Linked DNA regions of Homo sapiens. The gene in region 1 interacts genetically with each later gene. Each region holds a gene or a part of one and is shown in the gene's direction. Other genes may lie near its edges.

What was found.
Region 2: changes in LEO1 (region 1) and SDHC together harm fitness more than expected from each alone (negative genetic interaction), as found in Homo sapiens cells (one large-scale study listed by BioGRID).
Region 3: changes in LEO1 (region 1) and PNN together harm fitness more than expected from each alone (negative genetic interaction), as found in Homo sapiens cells (one large-scale study listed by BioGRID).
Region 4: changes in LEO1 (region 1) and RRM1 together harm fitness more than expected from each alone (negative genetic interaction), as found in Homo sapiens cells (one large-scale study listed by BioGRID).
Region 5: changes in LEO1 (region 1) and PGD together harm fitness more than expected from each alone (negative genetic interaction), as found in Homo sapiens cells (one large-scale study listed by BioGRID).
Region 6: changes in LEO1 (region 1) and NFYC together harm fitness more than expected from each alone (negative genetic interaction), as found in Homo sapiens cells (one large-scale study listed by BioGRID).
Region 7: changes in LEO1 (region 1) and CMAS together harm fitness more than expected from each alone (negative genetic interaction), as found in Homo sapiens cells (one large-scale study listed by BioGRID).

Annotation. Positions count from the first base shown.
Region 1 is NC_000015.10:51,958,279-51,961,778, reverse strand, and holds part of LEO1 (RNA polymerase-associated protein LEO1), read left to right. Parts: intron 1-1,045; coding exon 1,046-1,140; intron 1,141-1,734; coding exon 1,735-1,880; intron 1,881-2,952; coding exon 2,953-3,037; intron 3,038-3,500. UniProt on the Homo sapiens protein: Component of the PAF1 complex (PAF1C) which has multiple functions during transcription by RNA polymerase II and is implicated in regulation of development and maintenance of embryonic stem cell pluripotency.
Region 2 is NC_000001.11:161,352,381-161,355,880, forward strand, and holds part of SDHC (succinate dehydrogenase cytochrome b560 subunit, mitochondrial isoform 1 precursor), read left to right. Parts: intron 1-3,500. UniProt on the Homo sapiens protein: Membrane-anchoring subunit of succinate dehydrogenase (SDH) that is involved in complex II of the mitochondrial electron transport chain and is responsible for transferring electrons from succinate to ubiquinone (coenzyme Q).
Region 3 is NC_000014.9:39,178,254-39,180,986, forward strand, and holds part of PNN (pinin), read left to right. Parts: intron 1-837; coding exon 838-993; intron 994-1,070; coding exon 1,071-1,209; intron 1,210-2,249; coding exon 2,250-2,733. UniProt on the Homo sapiens protein: Transcriptional activator binding to the E-box 1 core sequence of the E-cadherin promoter gene; the core-binding sequence is 5'CAGGTG-3'. Capable of reversing CTBP1-mediated transcription repression.
Region 4 is NC_000011.10:4,125,799-4,129,298, forward strand, and holds part of RRM1 (ribonucleoside-diphosphate reductase large subunit), read left to right. Parts: intron 1-885; coding exon 886-1,035; intron 1,036-1,236; coding exon 1,237-1,458; intron 1,459-3,275; coding exon 3,276-3,352; intron 3,353-3,500. UniProt on the Homo sapiens protein: Provides the precursors necessary for DNA synthesis. Catalyzes the biosynthesis of deoxyribonucleotides from the corresponding ribonucleotides.
Region 5 is NC_000001.11:10,405,564-10,409,063, forward strand, and holds part of PGD (6-phosphogluconate dehydrogenase, decarboxylating), read left to right. Parts: intron 1-2,507; coding exon 2,508-2,577; intron 2,578-3,500. UniProt on the Homo sapiens protein: Catalyzes the oxidative decarboxylation of 6-phosphogluconate to ribulose 5-phosphate and CO(2), with concomitant reduction of NADP to NADPH.
Region 6 is NC_000001.11:40,743,704-40,747,203, forward strand, and holds part of NFYC (nuclear transcription factor Y subunit gamma), read left to right. Parts: intron 1-3,500. UniProt on the Homo sapiens protein: Component of the sequence-specific heterotrimeric transcription factor (NF-Y) which specifically recognizes a 5'-CCAAT-3' box motif found in the promoters of its target genes.
Region 7 is NC_000012.12:22,056,218-22,059,717, forward strand, and holds part of CMAS (N-acylneuraminate cytidylyltransferase), read left to right. Parts: intron 1-2,349; coding exon 2,350-2,483; intron 2,484-3,500. UniProt on the Homo sapiens protein: Catalyzes the activation of N-acetylneuraminic acid (NeuNAc) to cytidine 5'-monophosphate N-acetylneuraminic acid (CMP-NeuNAc), a substrate required for the addition of sialic acid.

The DNA of each region.
Region 1 (3,500 bases):
TTTTGTTCCTAAGTTCTTGACTTAGATGAAGAAACTGATTCTTTGAGCTGTGAGTTAGATGAAGAGCTCATAAAAACCCAGTGTTGGCTGGGTGCAGTGGCTCACGCCTGTAATCCCAGCACTTTGGGAGGCCAAGGTGGGTGGATCACTTGAGGCCAGGAGTTCAAGACCAGCTTGGCCAACATGGTGAAGCCCTGTCTGTACTAAAAATACAAAACATTAGCGGGGCGAGGTGGTGTGCATCTGTAGTCCCAGCTACTTGGGAGGCTGAGGCACGAGAATCGCTTGTGCTCGGGAGGCAGAGGTTGCAGTAAGCCAAGGTCGCACCACTGCAGTCCAGCCTGAGCAACAACAGTGAGACTCTGTCTCAAAACAACAACAACAACCGCAACCACCACCACCACCACCACCACCACCACCACCACCTGGTATTATAAGTTGGAAGGATGAAAGGAGTTCTACCGCCAGGTGTGGCAGCTTCCTTTCTCCTGCCTCAGCCTCCCAAGTAGCTGGGATTACAGGCACCTGTCACCAAGCCCAGCTAGTTTTTGTATTTTTAGTAGAGACGGGGTTTCACCATGTTGGTCAGGCTGGTGTCAAACTCCTGACCTTAAGTGATCCACCTGCCTTGGCCTCCCAAAGTGCTGGGATTACAGGCATGAACCACTATGCCTGGACTGTAATTTTGAATCTGGGATAGACTTATGGAAAATGGGTGTCTGTGGAGTGCTTCAGCCCCAACTTTGAGCATCTAGACTGTAGGAAACATTTGGGCTCCTGGGGAATAAAGGAAAGTGGGAGAACAAGGATGGTGAAAATGAAAGGAGAAATAAGTGCCTCCTGTGCAGCTTGCCTTTCACTAGATTTGCCCCCTTCCCTCTCCCCACACTCTCTGGTTGGGTCTTTGAGAGCCAGGCTCAGCATTATGTTTTTGGTGGTTTTCTGATGCTGGTCCAGAAACCTTGGGAATGTGTTGAAGTGATCAGCTGTGAAGAACCTTAGTTACAGATAGTAACACTAATGCCTTTTTCCTTCTGCATTGAAGATAATAGTGGAACCATGGATTTATTTGGAGGTGCAGATGATATCTCTTCAGGGAGTGATGGAGAAGACAAACCACCTACTCCAGGACAGCCTGTTGTAAGTCAGTTAGTAACATGAACTTATTCAAGGCCAGGCATAAAGTTTCAAAGGTGAAGAGTCTCCCTTATTCCAGGAAAGGAAGTTGATAACTGAATTCTAGTATGAAAATACCATGAACAGATGACTTTCTTCATTATGTAGGGAACTCTTGGTTATAAGGGGGAGTGGAAATAACTGCCAAACATGAGGTTGGTGTCATGCCTTAGGGGACTGAACTGTGAGGACTTGTGATTTGAGAACCATTGACTTGAATGTTTTTCTTGCTCATGCCAAGAAGTGTCTGCTATGTTGATAATCTTCTCTGGTTTTAATTGATAGAGTGACTTCCTATTGAAGTGTTAATTTCACACTTTTGTTGAGTATTTGGAAGACAGATTTATCATAAAGGAGATAGTTTTTTGTACTGAGGTATCCAAATTGATCGTTTCCCATTTTGTGTGTAGGTGGGTTGGGATGGGGACTGGGGACTTCTTTAGTCCTAAAGTGATATCTAATTATGTTTCTTGCACCCCAGAGTAATTAAAGTGTGGAGGTTGAAGGAAGCCATTTCTAAGGTCCTGTCAAGCTCCAAACTTCCGATTCTTTCACTAGGATGAAAATGGATTGCCTCAGGATCAACAGGAAGAGGAGCCAATTCCTGAGACCAGAATAGAAGTAGAAATACCCAAAGTAAACACTGATTTAGGAAACGACTTATATTTTGTTAAACTGCCCAACTTTCTCAGTGTAGAGCCCAGGTAAGGAAATCAATTAAAATTTTTTCAGGATGTTGAGTAGAAATACATAGAATGTTTATTTTTCTTATTTCGCATTGAGTTGACAAATCACAAAAACGGAAAATTGATCGTGTATCTCTGAAAAAATTAGTCAAGCACATCCTGAGATAGAAAAAATATGTATTAGTAAGGGAGGCTTTTAATGCTATGATTGTTTTTAGCAGTTTGATACTTTCTTATGAATTAACAGACACCACAAGTGTTCAAGGTATTTTTTTAATTAGTACAACCCTGAAAAGGCTGAAATTGAAAGCGATGAAATTTGCTAGAGAAATGCCAGTGTCCACTGTAGCAGCTATTGTTGGTCTAGAAAAGGTAATGGTTTTGGACAATTAGACAGTGTTTGATGGGTATTATTTACTAAGTTTACTCGAGCTCTTGTGCTTTTAAAATTTTTTTTCCACAGGCACAATGATGTGGAAAGCTAGAGCATATGTTGCCTATTCTTTGGCAGAGTTACATAAGAAGAAGAAAGGATATTTTGAATATTTACCCTTGCTTGTACTTTATTTCAAGCAATATGTATTAACAACAAATTTTAAGAAGTAAAATTACTGGCCGGGTGTGGTGGTTCACACCTATAATCCCAGCACTTTGGGAGGCCGAGGAGGGCGGATCACCTGAGGTCAGGAGTCTGAGACCAGCCTGACCAACATGGAGAAACACCCTGTCTCTACTAAAAATACAAAATTAGCCAGGCATGGTGGCGCATTCCTGTAATCCCAGCTACTCGGGAGGCTGAGGCAGGAGAATCGCTTGAACCTGGGAGGCGGAGGTTGTGGTGAGCCGAGATCGTGCCATTGCACTCCAGCCTGGGCAACAAGAGCAAAGCTCGGTCTCAAAAAAAAAAAAAAAGAAAAAAGTACAATTACTACTTCCTTGAAGTTAAGCATGAAGATATTGATCATTATGATTTTTAAAATTATATTATGATTTTTTGATATAATGGTGTTTATTAATAGAGATGTTATTACATAGCAGTAATATTCTTTATAAAATATGATTAATAGTTTATTTGGAAAACAATTTGTAGACCTTTTGATCCTCAGTATTATGAAGATGAATTTGAAGATGAAGAAATGCTGGATGAAGAAGGTAGAACCAGGTTAAAATTAAAGGTACCATTTCATGCTTTTTCCTTTTTTTTCTTTTATAAAGTAAAACCTGGAGATACTAACTTGAAACTTGAGCTTTTGAAAGTGATTTTTTTACCTAACACTTCACTATATGGCTGTGTTCTTTTGATTGCTTTTGTTGACTATTAGGAAAGAATTTTATTGTACTAAATTCCCATTAATGCTTCTCTTTGATACCTTATACCATCTGGTCACGCTATCAAAGGAGGGCCTCTAATCTTTTAAGTAAGGAGGATGTAGGTTCAGCAGAAGTTTCATCTTTTTATTTTGAGACACGGTCTTGCTCTGTTGTTCAGGATGGAGTACAGCGGCACAAACCCAGCTCTTGGCAGCCTCAATTTCCTGGGTTCAAGTGATCTTCCCATCTCAGCCTCCTGAGTAGCTGGGACTACAGAAAACATGCCACCATGCCCAGCCTTTTTTTTTTTTCTGTAGATATGAGGTC
Region 2 (3,500 bases), on another chromosome or scaffold:
AATGATCCCAGATCTCCTTGACCTCCCAGAGATTTGTATAAAAAAAAATTTTTCCTGATTACAAGAACATATTACCAAGAATGAAAATATTATACAAATGTATACTTAGAAAAGTTGCCCATAATCCCGCCAGTCAGAAATAACCAGTATTCTATGTATATCCAGAGACTGTATCATTTTATGTTTTTTGTTTAAGGACTCAACCCATCAGAAAAATACCTAATTCAAATACAACTATTGCTATAGCCATTATTTACTAAACATTTACATAATTATTTAACCCTCATAATAATCTGAGAAACAGGAGTATCTTCATTTAAGAGCTTAAGAAACTGAAGTGGCCGAGGTGGGTGGGAGGCCAAGGCGAGTGGATCACCTGAGGTCAGGAGTTTGAGACCAGCCTGGCTAATGTAGTGAAACCTCGTCTCTACTAAAAATACAAAAAAATTAGCCGGGCGTGGTGGCACACACCCGTAGTCCCAGCTACTCGGGAGGCTGAGGCAGGAGAATTGCTTGAACCTGGGAGGCGGAGGTTGCAGTCAGCTGAGATCGTGCCACCGCACTCCAGTCTGGGCGACAGAGCGAGACTCCGTCTCAAAGAAAAAAAAAGAAAAAAGAAAAAATTGGTGTGGGGGTATGTAGTAGTAGAATGATTTTGAGAACATTTGACTTATTTAGAGGCAGTCTTCTCTTTTTGAATTGATTAAACTAATTGACATAATTCTGTATTATTCATAGGAAAACAAAAGCTGAAGACACTGTTATTCACATCCTAGTATTTCCAAGAGTTTTGACTCTCGTAGGTCATTTGAGAGTAGGTGGTGTTATCCTAGGATAACACCATATCAGGGTCTGGTTTTCTGTTGGTTAATATTGGTGTGGGTGGCCATCCCTGGGACTCAGCTGTGAGCCTGTTGTCCTATTTGATGCATAGATCAGGGATGAGTTTGCCCAGATATCTAAGGCATATATTTGGCTATTGAAGTTTCAGAGCTTTGTGCTGGCACTGAAATTCAAAAGATAGTTTTGAATTTCCTATCAAAACTACCAAAAGAGGGGTTCCTGCAGTCTTCTATAATAGCTTATCATCTATCCAGAGTGTCAAAGACTCTGAACCCTCTTGAGTCATATCTTCCTCCCAAATGTTCATCAAACTGTTTGAGTTCAGGTTTACCTCAGTGTCTTCAGTAATTATTTTCATGGTGCTCCTAAGTCAAGGTAAATACCTAACACTTTTGTTTTATTAGTTTGTTAGATCCAAACAGCTTATTTATTTCTTAGCCATTGAGTAGACATTTTTTAAAAAAAATCATCCACATAGGCTGGGCACAGTGGCTGACAACTATAATCCCAGTGCTTTGGGAGGCCAAGGCAGAAGGATCGCTTGAGCCCAGGAGTTAGAGACCAGCCTGAGCAACATAGCAAGACCCCGTCTCTATGAAAAACAAAAGCAAAAACAAAATCATCCACATAAATGGAAAGAAAAAAATATTTTTATTTCATTCTTAAATAATCATACTTTTTTGTTTGTTTGTTTTTGAAACAAGATCTCACTCTGTTACCTGGGCTGGAGTGCAGTAGCACAATCACAGCTCACTTTGTGCCTGGCTAATATTTTTTATTTTTGTTTTTATTTTTTGTCTTATTTTTAGTAGAGACAGGGTCTCATTATGTTGCCCAGGCTGGTCTTGAATTCCTGGGCCCGAGTAATCCTCCCACCTCAGCCTCCTAAATTGCTAGGATTACAGGCATGAGCCACCATACCCAGCCAATCATAATTACTTACTAATAGGATGTATATGCTGTTGGATATTATACAACTCCTCCAACCTTAGAAATCAGATTGGATACTGCCACCCTCATTTCTTGTTCCACAGTGATTTTCACACAGTACTTCATTTTTGCTGAAAACCCAGCTTTGCAAAGATGTGATCATTGAAAGAAATCTAACATCTAATGTTGAAACTGAACTACCTTGAGCTAGTAGTGGTTCACATGATGACCAACAGATGTTAAGTATCACTGTGTTTCATTTGAATATGTAAAATATCCTGTAGGACCTGTGAGTTTGCTTTGGTACCCCAGGGCAGCTTGGTGTAGTTTGGAAACCACAGTTCTAGCAATGATCCCAAACTATCAAATCAGGGTCTCTGGGAGTTGTGATGTGGGTACTCTTTTTTGCTTCCCCAAAATATTTTTTGGTGATTATGGGAAACAACTGGCCTCTTCTTTTTTTCTTTTTTTTTTTTTAATTCCCATTTTACAGATGATGTCTTATTTCTTTGTGTGTGTGTGTGTGTGTGTGTGTGTGTGTGTGTGTGTGTGTGTGTTTTGTCATTTGAGATGGAGCCTCACGCCTCACTCTGTTGCCCAGGCTGGAGTGCAGTGGTGCGATCTCAGCTTCCTGCAACCTCCACCTCCCAGGTTCAAGAGTTTCTCCTGCCTCAGCCTCCTGAGTAGCTGGGACTACAGGTGTGCGCCACCACAACTGGCTCATTTTTGTATTTTTAGTAGAGATGGGGTTTCACCATGTTGCCCAGGCTGGTCTTGAACTCCTCACCACAAATAATCTGCCCACCTTGGCCTCCCAAAGTGTTGGGATTACAGGCATGAGCCACCGTGCCAGCCAAGATAACATCTTATTTCTAATTTGAGTTTCATATTTGTTATACTTGATTTCTCAGTCATTGGTGGTCGATAGCCACTGAGCTCCAACAGATAATGCAGCCCTGTCAGACATTAAAATATTCATACTTTTTCTTTCACATAGGGAAATAATCTTCCAAGTATATACACATAGCAGTTACATTATATCATTATGGTTTTGATTTGCATTTGTCTAATGGCTAATGATGTTAAGCACCTGTTCATGCACTGATTGGCCATTTATTTATCGTCCTTGGAAAGATGTCTATTCAGATCCATTTGTCATTTTATTGATTGAGTTGTAAGAGTTTTTTATGTATTCTGGATAAAAGTCCTCCATGATTTGCAAATATTTTCTCCCATTCCTTTGAGTTGTCTTTTCACTTTCTTGATGGTATTATTTGCAGCACAAAAGTTAGTAATTTTGATGAAATCCAATTCATCTGTTTTTTCTTTTGTCATTTATGATTTTGGTGTCATCTGTGAAACCACTGCCTAATCCAAGATCATGAAGATTTATTTCTATGCTTTCTACTAAGAGTTTTATAGTTTTAGTTCTAGCATTTAGGTCTCTAATTCATTTTAATTTAAATTTTTGTGTAATAGAGATTTGAATGATTTAAAATTTTTCCTCTCTTCAGAGGTAGCAACACTAGAAGATAAAGATAAAAAAAGGGCCAGGCGCAGTGGCTCATGCTGGTAATCCCAGCGCTTTGGGAGGCTGAGGTGGGCGAATCACTTGAGGCCAGGAGTTTGAGACCAGCCTGGCCAACATGGCAAAACCCTGTCTCTACTAAAAATGCAAAAATTAGCGAGGCATGGTGGCATGCATCTATAAGGCCAGCTACCTGGGA
Region 3 (2,733 bases), on another chromosome or scaffold:
TGCAGTGGCTCATGCCTGTAATCCCAGCACTTTGGGAGGCTGAGGCAGGTGGATCACCTGAGGTCAGAAGTTTTTCGAGACCAGCCTGGCCAACATGGTGAAACCCTGTCTTTACTAAAAATACAAAATTAGCCGCCTGTGGTGGCATGCGCCTGTAATCCCCAGCTATTTGGGAGGCGGAGGCAAGAGAATCACTTGAACCCTGGAGGTGAGGTTGCAATGAGCCAAGATCACACTATTGTACCCCAGCCTGGGCAACAGGCGCAAAACTCCATCTCAAAAAAAGAAAAAATGTGAAGCATATGCAGATACCTTTTTTTTTTCTTTTTCTTTTTTTTTGTAGAGATGGGGTTTTATCATGTTGCCCAGGCTGGTCTGAGCTCAAAGCAATCCACCCACCTCAGCCTCCCAGAGTGCTGGGATGACAGGTGTGAGCCACTGTGCCCGGCCTGCAGATACCTTTACATAGTGAAAAAAAAAAAAAAAAAAAAAATTTTTTTTGAGATGGAGTTTGGCTCTTCTTGCTCAGGCTGGAGTGTAGTGGCGTGATCTCAGCTCACTGCAACCTCCGCCTCTGGGGTTCAAGTGATTTCTCCTGCTTCGGCCTCCCAAGTAGCTGGGATTATAGGTGCGTGCAACCACGCCCTGTTAATTTTTTTGTGTTTTTAGTAGAGATGGTGGTGTTGGCTTCTGACTTCAGATGATCTACCTGCCTCTAATGTTTCACGTAATTAGTATGTGTAATAACTTTTTATCATAATTGAACTGAAATCATATATACCTTTTGTTGTAACTATTTCAACACGTAAGTATTAAAGCAGGCTACTTAACTTTTAGCAAAAGCGGCGCCAGGAAATTGAACAAAAACTTGAAGTTCAGGCAGAAGAAGAGAGAAAGCAGGTTGAAAATGAAAGGAGAGAACTGTTTGAAGAGAGGCGTGCTAAACAGACAGAACTGCGGCTTTTGGAACAGAAAGTTGAGCTTGCGCAGCTGGTGAGTGGTAATTTGGAATTCTAAGATTGGTAATCCTTTGTGTTTACAAAAGCACTGACCCTTTACCTTTTCTTTAGCAAGAAGAATGGAATGAACATAATGCCAAAATAATTAAATATATAAGAACTAAGACAAAGCCCCATTTGTTTTATATTCCTGGAAGAATGTGTCCAGCTACCCAAAAACTAATAGAAGAGTCACAGAGAAAAATGAACGGTAAGTATGCGAAGAGGTCCATTGAATTGTTCATAGTGGGTAAGGTAATATGTTCATATGCACACGTTTGTTTTCTAAAATAATTATGATTCAGTGATTGGTTTGCTGTGTTTGCTTTTTTTTTTTAAATAAGATAATAAGATATTCTAGGCCGGGCGTGGTGGCTCACGCCTGTAATCCCAGCACTTTGGGAGGCTGAGGCAGGCAGATCATGAGGTCAGGAGATCGAGACCATCCCGGCTAACATGGTGAAACCCCGTCTCTAGTCTCTACTAAAAATACAAAAAAAATTAGCTGGGCATGGTGGTGGGCACCTGTAATTCCAGCTACTTGGCAGGCTGAGGCAGGAGAATCACTTGAACCTGGGAGGCAGAAGTTGCAGTGAGCCGAGATTACGCCACTGAACTCCAGCCTGGGCAACAGAGCTAGACTCCATCTCAAAAAAAAAAAAAAAGATACATTCTGAGATGCTGGTGAGTTTGTAGTATAGGAATATTTGTATCATGATGGAGTTTAATGTGAAAGTTATAGACAGTGCTTATGCATCTGTATTCCTTAAGCATTTGTGTAAAATTACTTTTTTTTGCATGCTATTATTGTTCTGATAAAATGCTAATAAGACAAATGTGAAAACCAACTCAGTTTCTAGATGGAAAACACATGGAAGGATAGACACTGCTAAGATGATGATTTATCTCTTTGGGATCAGAAAAATTAATATATATGATTTTATGCCAAAACTGGTTCTGTTTTACAGAAGTTTTATTTTTCATCAGACATAAAGATTGATCTGTTTTCTTCATCAGTTAGAAAATGTGTAGTTCTGTCTGCCACAATTTCTAGTATGTAGATTTCCCATGGATCTTTGCTTTTATAATTTTATGTCAGTTTGTGGTTACTTAATTGCCATAATCTTTTGTCATAACTTTACAAAAACAAATTCAGATGAAGCTTAATGACAATTTGTGACCAGTTATAAAATTATGGCTTTGAATTTTCTTAATCGGTAAATTTTACACATGTAAATTTTTATTCTTTAGCTTTATTTGAAGGTAGACGCATCGAATTTGCAGAACAAATAAATAAAATGGAGGCTAGGCCTAGAAGACAATCAATGAAGGAAAAAGAGCATCAGGTGGTGCGTAATGAAGAACAGAAGGCGGAACAAGAAGAGGGTAAGGTGGCTCAGCGAGAGGAAGAGTTGGAGGAGACAGGTAATCAGCACAATGATGTAGAAATAGAGGAAGCAGGAGAGGAAGAGGAAAAGGAAATAGCGATTGTTCATAGTGATGCAGAGAAAGAACAGGAGGAGGAAGAACAAAAACAGGAAATGGAGGTTAAGATGGAGGAGGAAACTGAGGTAAGGGAAAGTGAGAAGCAGCAGGATAGTCAGCCTGAAGAAGTTATGGATGTGCTAGAGATGGTTGAGAATGTCAAACATGTAATTGCTGACCAGGAGGTAATGGAAACTAATCGAGTTGAAAGTGTAGAACCTTCAGAAAATGAAGCTAGCAAAGAATTGGA
Region 4 (3,500 bases), on another chromosome or scaffold:
TTTCTTCCTGGCATTTATTAGACTTCTGTGATTCAAGCTATATTTAAAAAAATGGGTATTTGGCAACATGTGTAGAATGGAGTAGATGTGAAGGGCATCAAGAGTTCAACTGGGAAACTTTCAGTAGTCCATGTGAGAGAAGTTAAGACTTTGGCTTGGGATAGTCATAATCAAAATGGAAAAGAAAGTGTATTCATTCAACATTATCAAGACTTACTGTGTGCCAGATGTGTTGCTAGTGCTAAACATATAAATATAAATAAGATGATCCTTGTGTGAAGAAGCTCACTGCCTCGTGTAGTGGAGAAATCACTGGAAGAGCTTTTTCAGAAATCACAAATTGAGATCCATTGTTGCTAAGGGCTTGTCAGAATATCAGTGAAGGTGAGGTGGACGTGTGTGTTTTGAAGAACTCTGCAGTGATGGAAATGTTCTGTATCTGATGGCTATTGAGCACTTGAAATATGACTAGTGCAACTGAGAAACTCAAATTTTATTTCATTTTAAATAGATATATGTAGCCAGTGGCTACCATATTGCAGGGCACTCATCTACTGAATAATGAGATAGGTATATGTAAAAAGCTAATTATAACATAGTGTGATATATGTCTGGTAATAGAGCTGTGTACTGTGGAACATAGGGTTCTCTCTCTCTCTTACCTATTTTGCTGATGCATGTTATAACTAACACATATGACTAGGTATTGAAGAAATAGAATCAGTGGGATTTAGAAATGGACTGATGAATGATGAAGAGGGAGAAGTCAAATATAAAAATTTAAAATTTTAATGTCTGAGTATTAGAGGCTCACATGGTGGTGTAATTGACACAGGAAGTAGAAATAAAAATTGTGTGATTCTTGACCTGTTTTTTGCATTCCAGGTTGCTGTTTGTAATTTGGCTTCCCTGGCCCTGAATATGTATGTCACATCAGAACACACATACGACTTTAAGAAGTTGGCTGAAGTCACTAAAGTCGTTGTCCGAAACTTGAATAAAATTATTGATATAAACTACTATCCTGTACCAGAGGTATGAATAGATTTCTCTGCTTATTGGTAATTATTGAAATCCAAATTGAAAGGAATCAATCATGATCTTCAAGTCATCATTTAAATGGTTATCAATAAAATGGTTTGAGAAAAAGAGGTAGTCTGTCTCATTTGGTACAGAATGTTGCTTTTCCTGTTCAGTAATGTTTTCTCCTTTTCTTTAAAATCTGTTGACACAAAGGCATGCCTATCAAATAAACGCCATCGCCCCATTGGAATTGGGGTACAAGGTCTGGCAGATGCTTTTATCCTGATGAGATACCCTTTTGAGAGTGCAGAAGCCCAGTTACTGAATAAGCAGATCTTTGAAACTATTTATTATGGTGCTCTGGAAGCCAGCTGTGACCTTGCCAAGGAGCAGGGCCCATACGAAACCTATGAGGGCTCTCCAGTTAGCAAAGGAGTAAGTATATGGATGGAATTGTTTTTGCCTGTGAGTACCTGTAGTGGGCTGAATGGTGACCCCACAAAAGGATATGTCCACATCCTAATTCCTGGAACCTGTGAATTTAATTTCATTTGGTTCAAAAAAAGGTATTTTGCAGATGTAATTAAGAACCTTGAGATAAGGAGATTTACCTGGATTATCCAGGTGAGCCCTAAATCTAATGACAGTTGTCCTGCAAGAGGCACAGAAGGGGAAGCAACGTGACTATGGAGGCAGAAATTGGAGTGTTACAACCACAAGCCTTGGAATGCTGATAACCACTAGAAGTTATAAGAGGCAAGGAACAGAATCTCTTCTAGTGCCTCTGGAGGGAGTGTGGCCCTCCCAACATGTTGATTTTGGGCTTCTGGTCTTCAGAACTATGAGAGAATAAATTTTTGTTAAGTTACCAAGTTTTTAGTAATTTGTTGCACCAGCCATAGGAAACTTAAATACCTTTGTCCTCTGGAGTAAAAAGGATACTCTGTTTTAATCTCTTATTTAGAACTAGTCATTGCTAAAATAATGTAAGAGGGATGCTGCCAATGTTAGTTTTCTGTGGGTTAAAACATGGCATTCGTTATCTCACAGTTTCCACAGGTCAGGAGTCCAGACTTAGCTTAGCTGGGCCTTCTTTTCTGGGTCTGTGTTCAAGATGTTGGTAAGGGCTGTGATCTCGTCTGAGACACAGAGTTCTCTTCCAAGCTTACCTGGTTGTTGGCAGAATATATTTCAAGGACTCATGGCATCTTGCTTCTTTAAGGCCAGTGGGAGAGACCATCTCTCGTTTCAAAAGGGGCACAGTCTAGTCTCTTTTGAGGGTTTTCACCTGATAAGTTAGGTCCACATAGGATAATGTCCTCACCACCCCCCTGTCCCGCTTTTTTTTTTTTTTTTTTGAGACAGAGTCTCACTTTGTTACCCAGGCTGGAGTGTGTGGTGTGATCTTAGATCACTGCAACCTCTGCTTCTCAGGTTGAAGCAGTTCTGCTGCCTCAAGTCTCCCGAGTTAGTAGAGATGGGGTTTTGCCATGTTGGCCAGGCTGGTCTTGAACTTGTGACCTCAAGTGATCCGCCTGCCTTGGCCTCCCAAAGTGCTGGGATTACAGGCATGAATCACTGCACCTGGCGTAATCTTCCTTTTATTTAACTCAGAATCGGCTGATTTGCAACCTTAATTACATCTGCAGAAACCTTTCACCTTTGCCATAATCGCTGGAGTGACATGCATCCTATTCTCAAGTCATGTCCATACTCAAGTGGAGATTATAAATAGCCTGTGCACCAAGGTGTGGGAATCTGGGAAGCTGTCTTAGAATTCTGCCTTTCCCACTGCCTTTATTATCAGTACTATGATTCTTTACTATATAAAATGTTAATTTCATTTCTGACATTCCTGCTGATATTAGAAAATCTAATGTGTGGTTATTAGAAAATAGGTGTTTTTAGCTAAGTAAACAGATCAAGGGACAGATGAAGGCACTGAAGAAAGTAACATTTTTAGTGTTAAAAAAAGAGAATGTGTCAGCCACACCCTTTTATGAATGTTAGAGTTTTCTGGTTTGTAGATATGACATGGGATAATCAGTTTTCTTAGCCTGCTTCTGATCAATATGACTACATGGAATTTTGTCCAGGAAAATCTCTGGAGCTTGTATTCCTCATAGAGGTTGATTAGAAGACAGCATTTGTTGGGATGTGGGGACATGGCAGCTAGTCATTTGTGGGTTTTTTTTTTTTTTGGTCATAGTTTTAACTTGCTGTAGAATAAATTTGAGTTGTGTATTCCTTAGATTCTTCAGTATGATATGTGGAATGTTACTCCTACAGACCTATGGGACTGGAAGGTTCTCAAGGAGAAGATTGCAAAGTAAGTGAAAAGATGTAAAGTAGCTTTGAAGGCAGAAGGGTTTAGGTTCACCTTCTGGATCTTCAGAAGTTAGATATGTCATTTTAACTTCTTAAACTCATTTATTACAAATGGGGCTAAAATGGCCTATCTCACAAAACTATTTTGG
Region 5 (3,500 bases), on another chromosome or scaffold:
GCATGGTGGCTCACGCCTGTAATCCCAGCACTTTGGGAGACTGAGATGGGAGGATCACTTGAGGTCAGGAGTTCAAGACCAGCCTGGCCAACATGGTGAAACTCTCTACTAATAATACAAAAATTAGCCGGGCATGGTGGAGGGCACCTCTAATCCCAGCTACATGGGAGGCTGAGGCACAAGAATCACTTGAACCTGGGAGGCAGAGGTTGCAATGAGCCGAGATCTCACCACTGCACTCCATCATGGGTGACAGAGCGAGACTCGGTCTCAGTAAAAAAGAAAAAATGATTCTTTTTTTGAGACGGAGTCTTGCTCTGTTGCCCAGGTTGGAGTGCAGAGTGCAGTGGCGCGATCTCTGCTCACTGCAAGCCCCACCTGCCAGGTTCACGCCATTCTCTCGCCTCAGCCTCCCAAGTGGCTGGAACTACAGGCACCCACGACCACGCCCAGCTAATTTTTTGTATTTTTAGTAGAGACGGGGTTTCACCGTGTTAGCCAGGATGGTCTTGATCCCCTGATCTCGTGATCTGCCTGCCTCAGCCTCCCAAAGTGCTGGGATTACAGGTGTGAGCCACTGCGCCCAGCCAAAAATAATTTTTTTAATTACCTTTCTGGTGAATGAGTCTGGGGATTCTCTTCAGTGTGTTATTAATAAAACACAGAAGTAGAGAGGCCTTTCTGCTTCTCAGAAGTTTAAACAGCTGTGTGTGCAGTGGCTTGCACCTGTAGTGCCAGCTATTCAGGAGACTGAGGTGAGAGAACTGCTTGAGCCCAGGTGTTCAAGGCCAGCCTGGACAACATAGCAAGACCCTGTTTCTTAAGAAAAAAAAAAAAGGTTTGAAAATACTTATCTCGAAGCACCTGCACAGTGAGCAGTTAGAAAGGCAACCAGCAGACAATGCACGTAAAAGTATTTGACATATGGAGTGCTCCAGTTGTTTCCATCAGTTCTCTTTCCTCATACTGTGGTGGCAGAAGTACAAATGGCACCTTTACCAGAAGGACACTGTAAAAGTTCAGTGAAGCTCTGCGGTTTCCGGTGTGGCTGTCTTCATCCCTAATCCTAAATGTTAACTTTGCAACCCTGTAAGATTTCATGTCTGTACCAGAAACTTTTTGTGAGGAAGCCTTGACTGGCCATTAGGGAGCAGAACAGTGAGGGAAAGTCTCAAGAGTAATATATCCGCGTGCTGAGCTGTGGAAGGAATGAACAGCGGCCTTTCTCTGAATGGTAATGTAGCTCTCAAAAACGCTGCCTGGTTCTTAATCCAAATGTCCAGAACCATTCTGTGCCTGGCAGCACACATCCAGACAAATGAAAGAGGGTCTCTTCACTTGCTAAAAGCCATTATAAGGAGAAATAAAGAAAAGGGAAAAAATTAAAAGAGGATCTCTAAAGGAACTTTCGTATTGCCTGCTGTTTGCAATCATACTGTCTGCTGCTGCTGCAGTAGAAATTTCTGAGCCGGGTGCGATGGCTTATGCCTGTAATTTCAGTGACTCAAGAGGCTGAGGTGGGAGGAGTGCTTGATCCGAGGAGTTCAAGACCAGCCACATCAACATAGGGAGACCCCATCTCTGCACCACCAACAAAAAATTAGCCAGGCATGGTGGCTCACGCCTATGGTCCCAGCACTTTGGGAAGCTGAGGTGTGAGGATTGCTTGAGGCCAGGAGCTCAACACCAGCCTGGGCAACATAGCAAGATCCTGTCCCTACAAAAAAAAGTTTTTAATTAGCTGGGTGTGATGGCACACACCTGTAGCCCCACCTACTTGGGAGGCTGAGGCAGGAGGATCACCTAAGTCCAGGAGTTTGAGGCTGCAGGGAGCCGTGATTGTGCCACTGCACTCCAGCCTGGGCAACAGAGTGAGACCCTGTCTCTAAGAAGACATTTCTTCTGGTGCTTTGGTGATGCTTCTGCTCAGCCTTTCTGTCTGTAGTCTCAGTCCGATAGTCCAGTCTGCTTTGAGGGCCCACCAGGACCTGGAGGAGGGGCCAGTTTCAGTCAAGGGTCTGCAGTTGACCTTGAGAACTTAGCACATTCATTATCTTTTTGTGGGCACTTCCACCTCCCATTAGAAAGAAAAAGATGGGCCCAGTGCGGTGGTGGCTTATGCCTGTAATCCCAGCACATTGGGTATCCACGGTGGGTGGATCACTTGAGCTCAGGAGTTCGAGACCAATCTGGGCAACATGGCAAAACCCCATCTCTACAAAATCCAAAAAAATGAGCTGGGTGTGGTGTCACATACCTGTAGTCTTAGCCACTTAGGGGGCCGAGGCAGGAAGATTACTTGAACCTGGGAGGTTGAGGAGGCTGCAGTGAGCTGAGATCACACCACTGCATTCCAGCCTGGGTGACAACGTGAGACCCTGTCTCAAAAAAAAAAAAAAAGAAAGGAAAAGATAGGGGTTGGTGTCTATGGGTATGTTGGTGTCTATGGGTATGGGCTCTCAGCCCGTCTCTTCTCATTAACTGAACCACACTGTTTCTTTACACAGGCCCCACATCAAGACCATCTTCCAAGGCATTGCTGCAAAAGTGGGAACTGGAGAACCCTGCTGTGACTGGGCAAGTTCTGGGCTACTCTTTAAAGCCAATTGGCAACATGGGCGTGTCTAAGTGATGAAGTGCGTGGAGAAAGGCCACCGTGGTCTCCCAGGGGTTAGCTTGGTGACATAAACGTCTCGATCTTTGATTGCTAGAATAGCCAACGCCTAGAATGCATGCCTGCTGTTCACATCTTTGTATCTTAGCTGACTGTTCATAGCCTTGAGGTTGATATTAAAAGCAGCCTTCTATAATTCATCTAAAAGATGAATTCTTTAAAAAGGAATAGGATGAAGTGAAATAAGATTTTTTCGAGCCATATTATTTCATGGCCAAAGGAAAGAATGTCAGAATCAAAAGTGGCGTTTGCTTGCATGGGTGAAAGGTGGAAGATTGAAGGTACTGTTGCTGTGTCAACATTCCATGAACGTGGAAAATTCCCCATCCTGTAGTGTGGGATTCAGGCATTCTGTGCTTGAACAAAGTAACCTGTGGACTTGCACCCTCACTGAATATGAAGGAGGCCTAACCTAGTTCATAGTACAGTGGTGCGATCTTGGCTCACCGCAACCTCCACCTCCCAGGCTCAAGCAATCCTCCTGCCTCAGCCTCCTGAGTAGCTGGGACTGCAGGTGCATGCCACCACGCCTAGCTAATATTTGTATTTTTTGTAGAGACGGGGTTTCACCATGTCACCCAGGCTGGTCTCAAACTCCTGGACTCTCAAGTCATCTGCCTGCCTTGGCCTCACAAAGTGCTGAGGTTACAGGCATGCGCCACCATGCCCGGCCTCGTGTTGCTGTTAAAGTAAACTTTATCTCATATTGTAGTTCAGCCATGCTGTGGATGGAAAAAAGCATTAGGCTCAGGAGACCTGAGTGGCAGTTCTGGCTTTCCATAAACTTAACTGTGACATCAGGCAAGCCACGTCCCTTCATGGACTT
Region 6 (3,500 bases), on another chromosome or scaffold:
ACTGTTACAAAACAGGTCCTGTGCTGTGTGAGCCCTTTCTGTAGAGCAGTGCTTCTCAAACTTTATTGTCTGTATGAACCACGTGAGGGAGGATCTTCTTAAAATATTGATGCTGATTTAGTAGGTTAGGAACGGAACCTGGGATTCTGTGTTTCTTTTGAGTTCCCAGGTGATACCATTGCTGGTCCAAGGACCTTACTTTGAGTAGCAGGGCCGTAAAACAGTAGTCCTTAACTCTCACTTGGATCATAGTCACAAGGGGAGTTTTCAAAAAACATGATGCCAGTACTCTACCCACTAGAGCAGGGGTCCCCAACCCCTGGGCCACAGACCGGTATGGGTCCATGGCCTGTTAGGAACCTAGGAACTGGGCTGCACAGCAGGAGGTGAGCAGCCAGTAAGCAAGCATTACTGCCTGAGCTCCACCTCCTGTCAGATCAGCAGTGGCATTAGATTCTCAAAGGAATGTGAACCCTATCATGAACTGCGCATGTGAGGGATCTAGGTAGCACACTCCTTATGAGAATCTAATGCCCACCCTGCCCATCTCTGGAAAAATTGTCTTGCACAAAACTGGTTCCTGAGGTTGGGGACCACTGTCCTAGAGTTCCTGATTCAGTTGGTCTCCAGGAGAGAGCTCAGGCATCTTGTTTTTCAAAAGCTTTTCAGGTGATTCTAACCTGCAGCCCCAAGATTGAGAATCATTGATTTCAAAGGGTTGAGAATCTTGACTTGCCAGAGTGCCTGACTGGGTAGGCCTGGAAAAGGTTTCTCTTTATTATTTGAAACTCTGGATGTTCTTCAGTGCAGCCCAAGATCTGTTGACTTTTCTTTGTCTCCAAACTCTCATTGAGTGAATTCAGATTTGAATTTGTCTTGAAATGCAGCAGTTTCAGATGGAAGCATTTTTAACGTAGTTCTTTGGTAGTGGTCAGGAGCATGAGAATGTTCTGAGAGATAATCTGCTCTTCTGCCTTACTGATAGAACTCCCAAAAGTAGGGGGGAGCAGTGTGTGTCAGCTGTTCTTCCAGTTGAATCAGTATCAGGAGAAGGAGTTAAGGAGTTAAATGTTACTCACTTCAGTTACATGGTAGCTAGTGAAGTGGGGAGCATGAATCCAAGTTTCGTGGGCCTCAATCTACTGATTGTAGAGGGCCTCCCTTTTCCAACAAGCTTATGGTAAATCCTTACATGTAACTAGAAGGCTAGGATAGGATTATAGAAAACTGGGTGATTGTCAACAGGGATGAACCATACACACCCCTCAAGATCCACTTTTACACACTGCTTCTTGAGATCTCAAGGTTTCAGGAACATGAAAAAATAGTTTGTCACAAAGAAAAGCTTTGGGAAGGGGATTAAAGCAGAGCTTATTATAAATTTCTGCCTCATTTTACATCTCTGCAAGGCGGGAATGATCTCTTGATCCTTGACTTTTGTTGCTTTTGATTAAAGAAGAGAAATTGAAGGAGTAATAGTTTACTCTTTCAATTTGGGGAAAGAGGTCTTTTTTATCAACTTTGGGCTTTAGTTAAGTAATCATGGAACGTTCTTGTACAAATTATATTTAAAACCAAGCCAAACAAGAGCACACTTGCAAGAGAGCTAAATGTATGATCATCTTGTGCTGTATGTATTAGCCTGGGAGGTTTTCCAAAGGAATGATCATCCCTAGCATTCTCTTTGGCATTTCTATGTAGTGTCATCATCTTCTGTGATATGCCACACAAGAAGGAAGACCAGTGGTTGATTTCTGGGATTAAACTTTTAAAAAAACTCTTTAGGATCTGGCCCCAACCCAGTATCCTCTTTCCTGCTTTTCCCCTCTATACTCAGGTAGTAGATCTAAAACTTAAATAGGCTGTGATTTTTTGTCTCTCTCTCTGTCTTTGTTGTTCTGTCTGAATAACATTCTCATACTTTTTCAACAGGCAAATTCCCAGCATCCCTTAGACACAATTCAGATGTCATCCCCTTTGTGGAACATTTCCCAATCCCTCACTCTCCCTCCAGCCCCACATTGCTAGCTGTCCCTAGCAATATGTCCTTCTTTGTGTCCCCGCAGGGGATCCCTCCCCTCCAGTATTGGGTAGGGGATTATAATGTTTTTATGTGACTATCTCTGACAAACCACAAGCTCTTCAAAGGTAGGAGTAGATGTGTATTTTTTTTCTTTCTTTTTTAAATAGTGATGGGGTCTCACTATGTTGACCAGACTGGTCTCAAACTCCTGGCCTCAAGCGATTCTCCCATCTCAGCCTTCCAGAGTGCTGGGATTACAGGCATGAGCCACCATGCCTGGCCTACATGTGTATTTTTTGCATAGTAGTAGGTATCATACATTTACTATTAGTTGAGTTGCTTGAATCAGTAAATGAAAGAGCAAGGGGAAAAACAAGAATAGAATGAACCTGCGCTACTGTTTCCTTTTGTTGAAATTTTAATAAACTGAACTTCTAAGTCTCTGTTACTCCAGGGTTAGTTTTAGTAGAGGGTTCATGGAAAATGTTGATACCTAATTTGGAAAAGGAAAAGATGAAAAATTGGTGTTTGAAGTTTGTAGAGCAGAGTGGTAGCCAAGCAGCTTGTTGGGTTTGCATGGAAAAATTAGATGTCTTGGTGTACATTTTATCCTAATAGATTCTCTTCTTTCTATAATCATAAAATAGGTTCTGGGAAGACTGTTGATGTTTTTCCAAAATACCTTTTTTTGACATATATTTGAGATTTTCTGTTGGTCTTGCAAAAGAAAGTTCACTTATGCTTGTTAATTACATCAAATCTGAAATAATATATGCTCCTTCCATAATGTGATGATGCAAATTCCCAGGTGAGCATATTAGGTTTAGTGAGTCACATTTCAGACCACTTATAGAATCAATCATTTGACACCTAGTCCCAGTAGAGATTTTGCTGATTTTAGCTAATATCTGCCTTTGCACCTTCCTCTTCATTGCAGCTCTGAAACTCAAAATTGATTTTTTTCCTAGAATTGCATCCATCATTGGGCATGTGTTTAAATACCAGTAGTTTCAAAATAAAACAAAAAAGGGCTTAAGTCTCAAATTATTGAGTAGTGCTGATCAAAAAAGCCCTTTCCTAAACTATATCCACAGTGAAGTTATATGGTCCTCCCCCACTCCAGGCTTGTTAAGAAAAAATAACACAGCTGTTCCTAAAAGGCAGCTGACAAATTCACCCTCATCCTTTTTCTATACTCCTCTACCCCCACTTGAAACAAATTTTGGAGACAAGGCCATTGCTACTGTGATGAGAAAGGAGCTCTCCTCCCCAGTTTCTGTTGTCAGGTTAGTGCAAATGTCAGAAATGGCCACTATCAGTTGTAAAGAACTGTGGATCACTGTGGTCAAGTGCCCCGGCGTTGCTGTTAGTTTGGTCACTGAATGGAAGAAAGAACTGGCAGTTTAGAGGAATACCCCTGAGACAGAAATCTCATTTTAATCTGCATATTGCAGACTGGTAAACTTACTTGGAAAAA
Region 7 (3,500 bases), on another chromosome or scaffold:
TTCCTCTAATTTAACATATTTTTGATAGCTATTTGAAAGTCCTTGATTGCAAATTTCAACATCTAGTCACTTACAGTTCTGTAATCTGCTTCTTTCTTGATTGTGAGTCACCTATTTCTGCCTCTTCATTTGGCTCATGTTTAATTGTATATCTGGCATAGACACTTGAGTACATATTTTCCTCCAGAGAGGGTACACCTTTTCTTCTATCAGGAAGATAGGATAAGGGGCTGATCACTTTGATTCAATTAGGAGTTGGGCTGGGTTGAAACTTTAATTTCATCTCACCTCTTAGTATAGGTGTCTTATTAGGAGATACATCTTGTATGTGTTACTGACACTCACACCCATACCCTACTCTTGCTAACAAGACTAAGGGATCTGATGACCACAATACTATTATGATGTCTCCCTGCTTTCCAGCCCATTCCCAGCTTCCCACCCAGTACACTCAGCCAAAGTCTTGTAAGGGGGAAGCATTAGGTGGGGAAAAACGAGCTATATGTTTGTGGTTCCTACAGATGACAATCTGTAACTCAAGTCCACAAGGTCATTGAAAGCCCTTCTAGTTTTTGCCTACCTCAGCAGAGTCCCTCTGATTATGCAAAGCTTGATCTTTCTTGTACCTTCTCCTCATACTCAGCAGATATGACCAGGGAGAAAGCAGCCACCGATACTAGGAAAGATTTGTCCCTCTCTTTTCTTCAAAGTACCACTTGAATTATCTAGTTGGTTTATTACCTGTCTCTACCCCTAGATTGTATACTTTTTGAGAATAGAGAGAGTTCTGGTCACTACTCTGTAGCCAGTGCCCATAAAGCTATGTTATCTCTAGCTATTTAATTTGTATTTGCTAAGGTTTTTTCCTGGGTTATTTCAAACACTGGGGTGGAATTGAACAGGGGATGATTTCGTTAAACAAGTAAGTAGAGGTTATTCCTAGAAGCCTGTATAAACACAGAAATGGCAGCAAAAAGTGAAGAAAGATTCTGGAGAGTAACCAGCTATTACACACACACACATACACACACACACACACACACACACACACACACACAGATTTGAGGAAAACTCAGTGGAAAGGCAAAGGAATCTCTACATGACAGTACCAAAGTCTTCATTGATTACATTATGTTCTATTCATTAATGTTGACATTACTGAGCCTTTATTATCAGGTATACTCATAAACATAATTTATTATTATGTTTAGTATATTTTTAACTAATGGTAAGAATGTATAATATGTTACATAAACATTTTCATCAATATAAAATCTTCAATAATTTAATGGAGAAATCTTTACTTTTCAGCAATAATTGTATAAAAACAAGTTCTCAACCACATTAGATAAATAAAACTTATTTCTGTATATGCAAACAATGAGAACTAGATTAAAGGGCCCAAATATTAATATAGGTATTTTATGACAAATTCAGTTCTTTTAAAGCTACTTTAAGGTTGTCTTGATGTCCTCCCAAAGCATAATATTTGTATGAATACCTTAATTGTTCCACATTTCATTATAAAATACTTTAGTTTTCTAGTAGCTATTGGAAAGCAAAGATAAATCATCAGAATTATTACAGATTTTATTCCTTTAAAAAAGTTCTTTTTTTTTTTTTTGAGACAGAGTCTCACTCTGTTGCCCAGGCTGGATGGAGTACAGTGGCGCAATCTCGGCTCACTGCAATCTCCCCCCCCCGGGTTCAAGCGATTCTCCTGCCTCAGCCTCCCAAGTAGCTGGGATTACAGGTACCCACCACCATGCCCGGCTAAATTTGTGTTTTTAGTGGAGATGGCGTTTCACTATGTTGGCTGGGCTGCTCTCGAACTCCTGACCTCAAGTGATCCGCCCGCCTTGGCCTCCACAGTGCTGGGATTACAGGCGTGAATCACCACATTCAGCCTAAAAAAAGTTCTTTATCAGGCCGGGTGCAGTGCCTCATGCCTGTAATTCCAGCACTTTGGGAGGCCGAGGTGGGCGGATCACGAGGTCAGGAGTTCGAGACCAGCCCGGACAACATGGTGAAACCCCATCTCCACTAAAAATACAAAAATTAGCCAGGTGTGGTGGTGCATGCCTGTAGTCCCAGCTACTTGGGAGGCTGAGGCAGGAGAATCGCTTGAACCCAGGAGGCGGAGGTTGCAGTGAGCCAAGATCGCACCATTGCACTCCAGCCTGGGTGACAGAGCGAGACTCTGTCTCAAAAAAAAAAAAAGAAAAGTTCTTTATCTAGATAAAGAAATGCTCTGCATTCTGAGTTCATTTTTATTAACTTTTTTAGTTACTAAATTAACACTTTCTATATTCAGGGCAACGTGGACTTACTCTAACTTTTTGCTTTTAGTTCGTGAAGTGACCGAACCTCTGAATTTAAATCCAGCTAAACGGCCTCGTCGACAAGACTGGGATGGAGAATTATATGAAAATGGCTCATTTTATTTTGCTAAAAGACATTTGATAGAGATGGGTTACTTGCAGGTTTGTACCTTCATTTTGCATAACCCTTTTAAGCGCTTTTGTAGGCATACTTTGAGTTCTAGGGAAGAAGTATGGTACAATTTCTTTATGATAAAGAAAAGTATCAACCTATAGAGGAAAGGTAATAGCCAACAACATTTGCTATCTGAGGCATTTATCCTGCAGGTTTACCCCAAAGTGATCTTTGGAATCCATTCAGTAAATATGCAAGGAATTCTGCTACAACGATAAAAAAATGAATCAAGTACTGGGTGTCTACACATGTCCTGGTACTCATATTATTCCACTCAAAACTACGTAATCCATGTTTGTGTTATAGTTATATTGTGGCTGTAGGGTTGAATAACTTCTATTGCTTTAAAAAGACAAATAATTTCATAGAGGTGAAAAGAGTTACAACCTGGGTGTCAGGAAACCCGGAATCTTTTTATATATATATATATATATATTTTTTTTTTTTTTTATTATACTTTAAGTCAACTGCCTCTTACTATGTAAGCTTGAATATGTATCATTTTATCTGTCCTGACTCTCATTTTCAAATAACAGATTTAATGTCTCTCTCATTTTAGAGCCTGCAACATGGTTGCATCATATATTTCTTAACTTGTTAATTTTAGTTATCATTATTATTTATTATTTACTGTGTACTTCGGAGTAGGTGAAACACTTTGCATATGTTATCTTATGTAATCTGCATAGCGAATGAATGAAGTGGACATTTCTACCCAGTTTTACAGAGGAGGAAAACTGCCTCACTGAAATATGAAGTAATTGACTCAAGGCAAAAACAGCTAATAAATGGTACTGTCAGGATTTGGATTCAGGTTCTTATGTTACTCAAGAAATAGCGGTTTTAAAGAGAGAGAGAGAAACCTCTCCATTGTGTAATAAAAATTCTAATGGGACTATTATTCTGAGCAAAAGAGAGAAAAACATTTTTACAAATCTTCTGGTCAATGTGTAGGCAAACTATAGACTAGCTGTTTAGTTAAATTTAAGTGTTCAGAAAAATTG